Linked DNA regions of Homo sapiens: region 2 is linked to region 1. A link means that fine-mapping ties the variant in region 1 to the expression of a gene that starts in the linked region. Tissue or cell type: whole blood. Region 1 holds a variant in brackets; the other region holds the start of a gene. All regions are shown on one strand. Distances are from middle to middle.

The links. PIP is the estimated chance that this variant, and not a neighbour inherited with it, causes the effect.
Region 2: TNFSF13B starts here. The variant in region 1 is fine-mapped to the expression of TNFSF13B in whole blood (INTERVAL, PIP above 0.99).

What each region holds. Positions count from the first base shown.
Region 1 is chr13:108,311,745-108,316,097 of GRCh38, forward strand. No RefSeq gene overlaps it. Among named protein-coding and RNA genes, the nearest start is that of TNFSF13B, 44 kb to the left of the region's middle. The variant T/C (reference allele first, on the strand shown) is at 2,549.
Region 2 is chr13:108,268,166-108,272,333 of GRCh38, forward strand. TNFSF13B (TNF superfamily member 13b) reads left to right here and starts at 1,553. Exons shown (of 6, transcript NM_006573.5): 1 at 1,553-2,069; 2 at 2,175-2,259. The coding sequence starts at 1,731. RefSeq lists enhancers at 1,589-2,018, 1,970-2,478 and a silencer at 2,379-2,458.

The sequences.
Region 1 (4,353 bases):
CTCTCGAGACCTGATTATTTTAAAAAGAGGAGTTCCTCTGCACACACTCTCTCTCTCTTTGCCTGCTGCCATCCATGTAAGACGTAACTTGCTCCTCTTTGCCTTCTGCCATGATTGTGAGGCTTCCTCAGCCATGTGGAACTGTAAGTCTAATTAAAACCCTTTCTTTTGTAAATTGCCCAGTCTTGCGTATGTCTTTATCAGCAGCATGAAAACGGACTAATACAGTAAGATTTATGGGGAAGAGTATTTGAGAGAGAGGAAATGGAAAGCAAAATCCCTTCAGTGTGTTTGTGGAGCACAGTGGTCCCAGGATGCCTGGACAGCAGTGATCCATGGAGAAAGTAGAAGATGAAGCTAGAGAGTTAAGGAGGGGAGGGCACTGAGCCTGCAAGAACTTGCTGTGCATTGGGAGGGAATTGCTTTTAGTCTGAGTGAGAAAAGAAACCCTAGAAATTTCTGAGCAGAGAAGTGATGTGATCTGACTTACTTGTAAAAGAACCACTTTGGATTCTGTACTGTTTAGTCTACACGGGAGAATGGGTGAAAGCAGGAGACTAACAGGGGTCTGTAGCCATAATCCAGGCAAGGAATCATGGTAGCTTTGACTAGAGTGGCCGAATTGTGTGTTCTGTGTTGAATGAAATATTCAAGGATAATATCACATGATCACTTCAGCAGATCCAGGAGGCAAAAAGTACAATTTAATATTTACTTACGGTAAACACTTTCAACAAAGCGGGAATGAATAAAACTTTTTAAATCTAATAAAATTTGCAACCAGGAAAAGATAATTATCACTGGATGATTATTACCACTTCTACATTTTCCCCAAATATTTGCTCAAGTCCCAACTCCTGGTACCTGTAAAGGTGACCTTATTTGGAAATAAGGCCTTTGCAGATGTAGTTAAGATGTAACTTAAGTGAAGTCATACTGGAGTAGGGTGGGCCCCTAAATCTAATGTCTGTTGTTTTCATAACAGGAGGAGAAGAAACAGAGACATGCACACAGGGAGAAGGCCATGTGAGTATTAAGGCAGAGATGAGAGAGGTGCTTTTACCAGCCAAGAAACACCAAGGATTGCTGGCAACAACCAAATGCTAAAAGAGGCAAGGAAAGATTCTCACCTAGATCTTTCTGAGTAAGCAAAGACCTCCCGATACCTTGGCCTCAGACTTCTACCTTCCAGAACAGTGAGAAGTACTTGTTTTCAACCACCCAGTTTGTGACACTTTGTTATGGCAGGTCTAATAATCGAACACAGATGTTGACACTGAGAATATTGAAAAAGGTCATATTCTGTATATCTTTAAAAGTGTAACCCACAATATTTGTTTATTCTCTAAACATGGGAGCGGGAAGATAAAAAGAGAGGCATGAAGGATCACTCCCAAGTTTTAGCCAGAGCAACATGAATGATGATGAATATCCCCTAACAGGATGAGGAAGACTAGAAGAAGCAGCTTCAGAGTGGGCAGGAAGGGAGTTCAATTTTGAACATATTAAATTCTAGTTGAAAGGTGAACACCGAAACGGAGATGCTGTCTACGAAGTTAGGACTAGAAACCCTGTATGAGATCACCAGGGGTATAAGACCAAAGAGCAGAGAAGACAGTGAAAGAATGGATTCTGAATGTCAACATTCAGGAGTCCATGAGATGAGGAGGAACAAGCAAGGAAGACTAAAAAGAAATTACAATTAAGAGAGTAAAAACCAGGAGGCCTGAAGCCAAGTCAAAAGAAAAAATCATAAGGGAAGTTTCATTCAGCCTGTTAGTGCTGTTAAATTGCACGAAAGAGGGCGGGGAGGGCATGGTCAGGGAGCAGACTGCAATTGGCATGAGGCCAGGAAACACCCAGATGGGAAAGTGGCCTATATACAAATACTTGATTATATGATTTGGCTGTGTCCCCACCCAAATCTCATCCTGAACTGTAGTTCCCACAATCCTCATGTGTCCTGGGAAAGACTTGGTGGGAGATACTTGAATCATGGGGCTGGTTATCCTCATGCTGTTCTCGTGATAGTGAGTGAGTTCTCACGAGATCTGTTGGTTTTTAAAGGGGCTTCCCTCTTTTGCTTGGCACTTCTCCTTGCTGGTGCCATGTGAAGAAGGACGTATTTTCTTCCCCTTCCACCATGATTATAAGTTTCCTGAGGCCTTCTCAGCCATGCTGAATGCTGAATCCATTAAACCTCTTTCCTTTATAAATTACCCAGTCTCGGGTGCGTCTTTATTGGCAGCTTGAGAACAGACTAATACACTTGAGGATGAGGGTGCAACCTCATTAGAGACCTGCCTTACACTAGGGCCACAGAGATAAGTTGTGAGAGGTGGTCAGGTTCTGTATGCATTTTGAAGGTAAAAGAATCTATCTTCTAACATGAGGTGTGAGATTCACTCTCAAGTTTTTGGACTCATCAACTGAAAAGGCATTATTCACTGAGTTGGGGAAGGTAAGAATTGGAGAAGAAAAAAACATAGATTGTTCTAGCAGGTTTAATTTGGAGATGCCTGTTAGCCATCTGTTGGGCAAACAGTAT[T/C]TGGCCATGGATACTGGGATTGTTTCTTTTTTCCTTTTACAATCAATACTCCTATACGCATTCTTGTACTTGTCTCCTCGTGTGAATATTTAATTCATTCCAGTTCTCATAACTCCTGGGAACATGGTAGAATGGCACAGCCTTGTCACTGAATGGGGCCATGTGACTATTTCTGACTAACCCGTTGTGAATTGAGCCCTATAGAATACTTCTTTCTCTCTGATCCATGATCAAAAAATTTCAAAACAGCGTATGTTGTTCCATCAGCCTAGATCCCTCAGAAACTATATTGAGCAGAGAACTCCCTCACCCGGCCACTTGCTCTGTGAGATTCATGATGGAAAGGCAATGTGAACAACAAATAAATTTCTATTGTCCAAAGTCACTGATATTATAGGCATGTTTGTTTCTGCAGTGTAATTGAGCCCATCTTGACTGATACTTTCCAGAATTAATTTTATCGTGCCATCTCATTCAACCTCCTACGACTCCCATAAAAAAAAACGCAGCCAGGGCATAGAGCCCATGTATTAATTTCCCCTTAGATAGCCCATTGCCATGCTCTTCTTTGACAACCTTGACATTATCTTCCATATCAGATACTGCTGATCTGAGCTTTGTTCTCAGTGCCCTTGGGCACTGTGTTCTCCTGGTCAGACTATACCCCTCCTCCTCAGGGACAGCTTTATCTGCCCATGCCCTGCTGCCTGAATGAACCAAATTACAGAGAAACTCATCCTGTCTTAGGTGTAATAATTCCCTGACTTCCACTGTAGCCACACACATACAAACAAAATGTACAATTAGAAAGGAATGTTTGAAGAAACAGCTGGCTTCTTGGCATGCCACCTGTGCCCAAGGACCCACACTCAGAAAGCCTCTGTGCTTACTTTAATGCTCCACTGTTGCCATCTTGGAAATCTTAATCATTTTTGAGCAAGGGTGCTGATATGGTTTGACTGTGTCCCCACCCAAATTTCATCTTGAAATGTAACTTCCACAATTCCCACATTTTGTGGGAGGAACCCAGGGGGAGGTGATTGAATTATGGTGGCAGGTCTCTCCTGGGCTGTTCTCCTGATAGTGAATGAATCTCATGAGATCTGGTGGTTTTAAAAAGGGAAGTTTCCCCGCATGAGCTCTATTCTCTTATCTGCCGCATGTGAGACATGCCTTTCACCTTCTGTCATGATTGTGAGGCCTCCCCAGCCATGCGGAACTGTGAGTGTATTAAACTTCTTTCTTTTGTAAATTGCCCAGTCTCGGGTATGTCTTCATCAGAAGTGTGAAAACAGACTAATACGGGCACCTACACTTTTATTTAGTGCTGGGCCCTGAAAATTAGGTAGCAGTTCTATTAGAAGATATTAGAGAGAAGGAGTAGAGGATAAGTTAAGAGCCTCATGTCTTGTGCCAAAAGTCTAGCATTCAAATCCTAATTTGCTTCCTAATTTTATAACATTAGTAACACTGAATTTGTGAAAAAAATGCACATGTAAAAACACTCAGAATAGTACCTTGCATATTATATGTGCTAAATACTTTTGCTTAAAAGATACACATGCCTATACCCACATACACAGACATAACAGGAGGAATTTGAATTTGAATTCAAAAGAAGGAAAGAGAAGTGTACTGTCTGGTTTCATTTTAGCAATGAAAACCAATGTGGAAGCTAAATTGGCCGGAAACTGAGGAATATCTGGTTTTGTTATCTTGTATTGTTGTTTTGTTTTAAGATATCTTGGGTAGACAGGGAAAAAAATGAGAGAGAGAGAGAGAGAAGGCAGAGCAGCACCCTGGAA
Region 2 (4,168 bases), 44 kb before region 1:
ATGCAAAGACATAGGAATGATCTAATGGACTTTAGGGACTCAGGGGAAAGGGTGGGAGGGGGGTGAGGAATAAAAGACTAAAAAATGGGTTCAATGTGTACACTGCTCGGGTGATGGGTGCACCAAAATCTCACAAATCACCACTAAATAACTTAACCATGTAATCAAATACCACCTATTCCCCAAAAACCTGTGGAAATAATTTTTTTTTAAATGGAAGCATCCAAAATGTAATTTGTTTCCACATTCTTGTAAGCCTCATTATGTATCCCAGGGACAGTTAATATCGTCATACGAATTCACAGGTGAGGAAATGGAATCACAGAGAGATTATGTACTTTGCATAAGGAGAGCGAGGGTGAGGCAGGATTTGCAGTCTAGAAGCCTGGGTCTGGAGTTCTCCACTTTGCACTATATCATTTCTGTAAACTTCTTACTTAAGACTGTGTGGAAATGTAGAGTGAGACAGAACTAAAGCTCACTATTCTTAGTCCACAGGGGAGTAGTGACTACCCAGGGCTTGGTAAGTGCTCAGTAACGTTTGTTGAAAGATGAATCAATATTTCAATGCTGGGGCAAAGCAGTGAAAAACTGGGGAATGTCCAGGAACCAGCCATCAGGATAAGGCAGGACTAGAATGAATGCAACAGTCCTCACAGGTCCACCAAGTCAACAACAGAAAAATCCAAAGCTAAGGTGGCTCTTGTGTGATCAAGGACCTCTTGTACACCGACCTGTTAGGCTGTGGCACAGTCAACATGGGAGTTGTAGACAAGCTACTTGAGAGTGGTTAATGGTAGCAGTCAGGCATTTGGAGCTGGAGGCAAGGCTGATTCTCCTCAACTAGTATCATATTGAGCGGGGACTTAAAGCCTCAGAAGTCTGAGCAGAAAAGCTGAGACCAGGCTCCTTGGGACAGGCTGTTCATATGCATGATTGAGTTTCAGTGATGAGTCCCAGAAGGAAAAAGTTTATGCATGTTTTCCTTAAAAATATATTCACTTATATTTAGAGAATCCTTCAGATATCTAACCTAAATACGTCTGTAACATTTACTCTCATTCTTTTTATGACATTATTAGTATAATAATATGAATAATTCCCAGTGGACTTACTTCCACACTTCCTTCAAGGATTCTCCATTTTATTTCATAATTGAAGACTGTTAATAAATCACTCTCTAGCTAAGAACAATTCAATGCTAAAACACTTAGCTTATCTGACCTTCACATTAATTATTTTTATGACAGCAGCAGGAACTTTCAGCTGCTTTTCCCCCTTCCTTATGAAGCCATGTGGTCCCAAGCAGACAGAGTTCCCTTGCTACACTTAAGGGTGGGCTTCTCAGACCTGAGCATATCTTAAAAGCTTTCCCTTGACTGTGCCAATCCAAACTCCAAGTTTCCTCAGCAGATTTAAGGGGTTTTAAATCTACTTGAGCATGAGTGTTATGAGAAGACTTTGAAATTCTTACAAAAACTGAAAGTGAAATGAGGAAGACAGATTGAGCAATCCAATCGGAGGGTAAATGCCAGCAAACCTACTGTACAGTAGGGGTAGAGATGCAGAAAGGCAGAAAGGAGAAAATTCAGGATAACTCTCCTGAGGGGTGAGCCAAGCCCTGCCATGTAGTGCACGCAGGACATCAACAAACACAGATAACAGGAAATGATCCATTCCCTGTGGTCACTTATTCTAAAGGCCCCAACCTTCAAAGTTCAAGTAGTGATATGGATGACTCCACAGAAAGGGAGCAGTCACGCCTTACTTCTTGCCTTAAGAAAAGAGAAGAAATGAAACTGAAGGAGTGTGTTTCCATCCTCCCACGGAAGGAAAGCCCCTCTGTCCGATCCTCCAAAGACGGAAAGCTGCTGGCTGCAACCTTGCTGCTGGCACTGCTGTCTTGCTGCCTCACGGTGGTGTCTTTCTACCAGGTGGCCGCCCTGCAAGGGGACCTGGCCAGCCTCCGGGCAGAGCTGCAGGGCCACCACGCGGAGAAGCTGCCAGCAGGAGCAGGAGCCCCCAAGGCCGGCCTGGAGGAAGCTCCAGCTGTCACCGCGGGACTGAAAGTGAGTTTGCAGCAGCTGCAAGACGCAGGCAAGATCCTGCCTACACTGCTGCCTCTCCCTCGCCTCAGCTGTCTTTCTAATAACTTGAAGTTTTTCTGTTCATAGATCTTTGAACCACCAGCTCCAGGAGAAGGCAACTCCAGTCAGAACAGCAGAAATAAGCGTGCCGTTCAGGGTCCAGAAGAAACAGGTATGTTTTGGGCACAGACACTTTTAGGAGTCAGGGATTAGAGAATAACATCCAGTCTGGGGGAGCTGGAGGTGAGTATCCCCTCTATGAACCTATTAAATAGAGACTATGAAATTTGCCATCCAAAGCAGACATTGCTTTAGAGCAAAGCCCCAGCGCTGGCAAATGTAACAGGCTGCATGGGTGTGCTTTTTCCTCCAATGAGCAGATCGTGTGACTGGAAGCATTTCTCTGTGCGTGTGTAAGTATTTATCTGTGCATTAAGCATAGAGGAGATAAAAGGGCCATATGTGTTTCCTCAGGTAGATAATGCCCTCCCATGTGAGAAGCATTATTCATCACTCCAGAAAAATAAAAAAAAGCATTACATGTTAGAATTAGACTTTGCTTACTACCTGGGTCATAGAAAGTTAAAGACATCTGTTTTCTGAATGTACATTACATGTTGTGAAACCAGGTGAAGGTTGTAATGAAAGGCCCTGTATGTTGTACTTTAATTTTGTTTATTTGTTAAAAAGGTTATTTTACACACACACACACACACACGCACAGACACACACACAGATTTTAAAGCTTCTCTTTAAGGTACGCTTTTCCAGGGGATCCATGCATTTATCGTCTTCTTATAATCGTCCTTTACTGATTTCTGACTTTCTTCATGTTCTGCTCATTCCACGGAACTTTACAGAGTTGGTGGGGCCTACCAAAATGATCGATTCTAGTTCTTTCATTTGAAGGTGAAAAAAAGAATCTTTGTATACATTTATTAAAGTTATAATATAACAAATTCTTAATATTATTGTCCTTTTATTAAATATATTGAAAGAATATTTTTTGAGCACCTGGAACGTATCGTACAGCTATAGACCAGAATAGGCATTTTCAAACATACTATTTCGTTTAACCTTCACAGTGACGCTATGAAGTCCACAGAATACATGCAATAATTTATGTATATTTTCACTTCTGAAGAGAATTGCATAAGAAATGTAGTGAGAGATAGACCAGGGACCCTTCTATCACACACACACACACACACACACACACACACACACACACACACACGCATGAGGTACCCTGACTATAAACTTATTTTTTGACTATATGCTTTATTCATAAAAAATTGTTTCTTATTTTATAAAACCATAATTTTTGGTATCTGGTTATTGTATCTTTATACTAGTTATCAGGAATAACTGGGCTTAAACATTTTTAAATTAGGAAACATGCACATTTTTATTATTTTAACACATCAATTATTTTTATCGTCTGCATTTTATAGTCTATATTTCCTACATAATTGAAAATAATACGGAATATATACTATAATATTTTTTGTTTTGACTTATACAATAAGGATTTTTCCTATTTCTAAGTATTTTTCATATATCTGTATTAATTTATCTAACAATTGTTTTAAATGGTTATTTCCATTCTCTTTGCTATAATACAACATGCAAAAGTTTTGCACAGAACTCTTTTATTTCTGTGAAATTATATATTCAATATAAAATTCATATAGTGGAATATCTGAGCTAGGGAGAAGAAACATCTTCATCACCCTTGCTTCCGACTGCCATATTGTTTTCAAAATGAGTTATACATGCAATCAAAAATGTGGTGTACCGGTTCTCCACATTCTTGCTTGCATGTTATTTTTAAAGTGTATTTTGACTAGTTTAGTAGTTGTAAAACAATATCTCACATTTATTTTGATGTGTTGCTTGTTTACTAATATGAATAAACTTTCTGCATATTTTGATTATTTATAATTTTATCTTTTGCTAATTTTTATTTATAACTGTCTCCACTTGTCTGTCCCATGTTTTTATAATTTTGGATAAGCTCTTCCTAATTAGACATATTGATAATTGATCAAAATTTTGATGTAAATATTTTAACAGTTTTG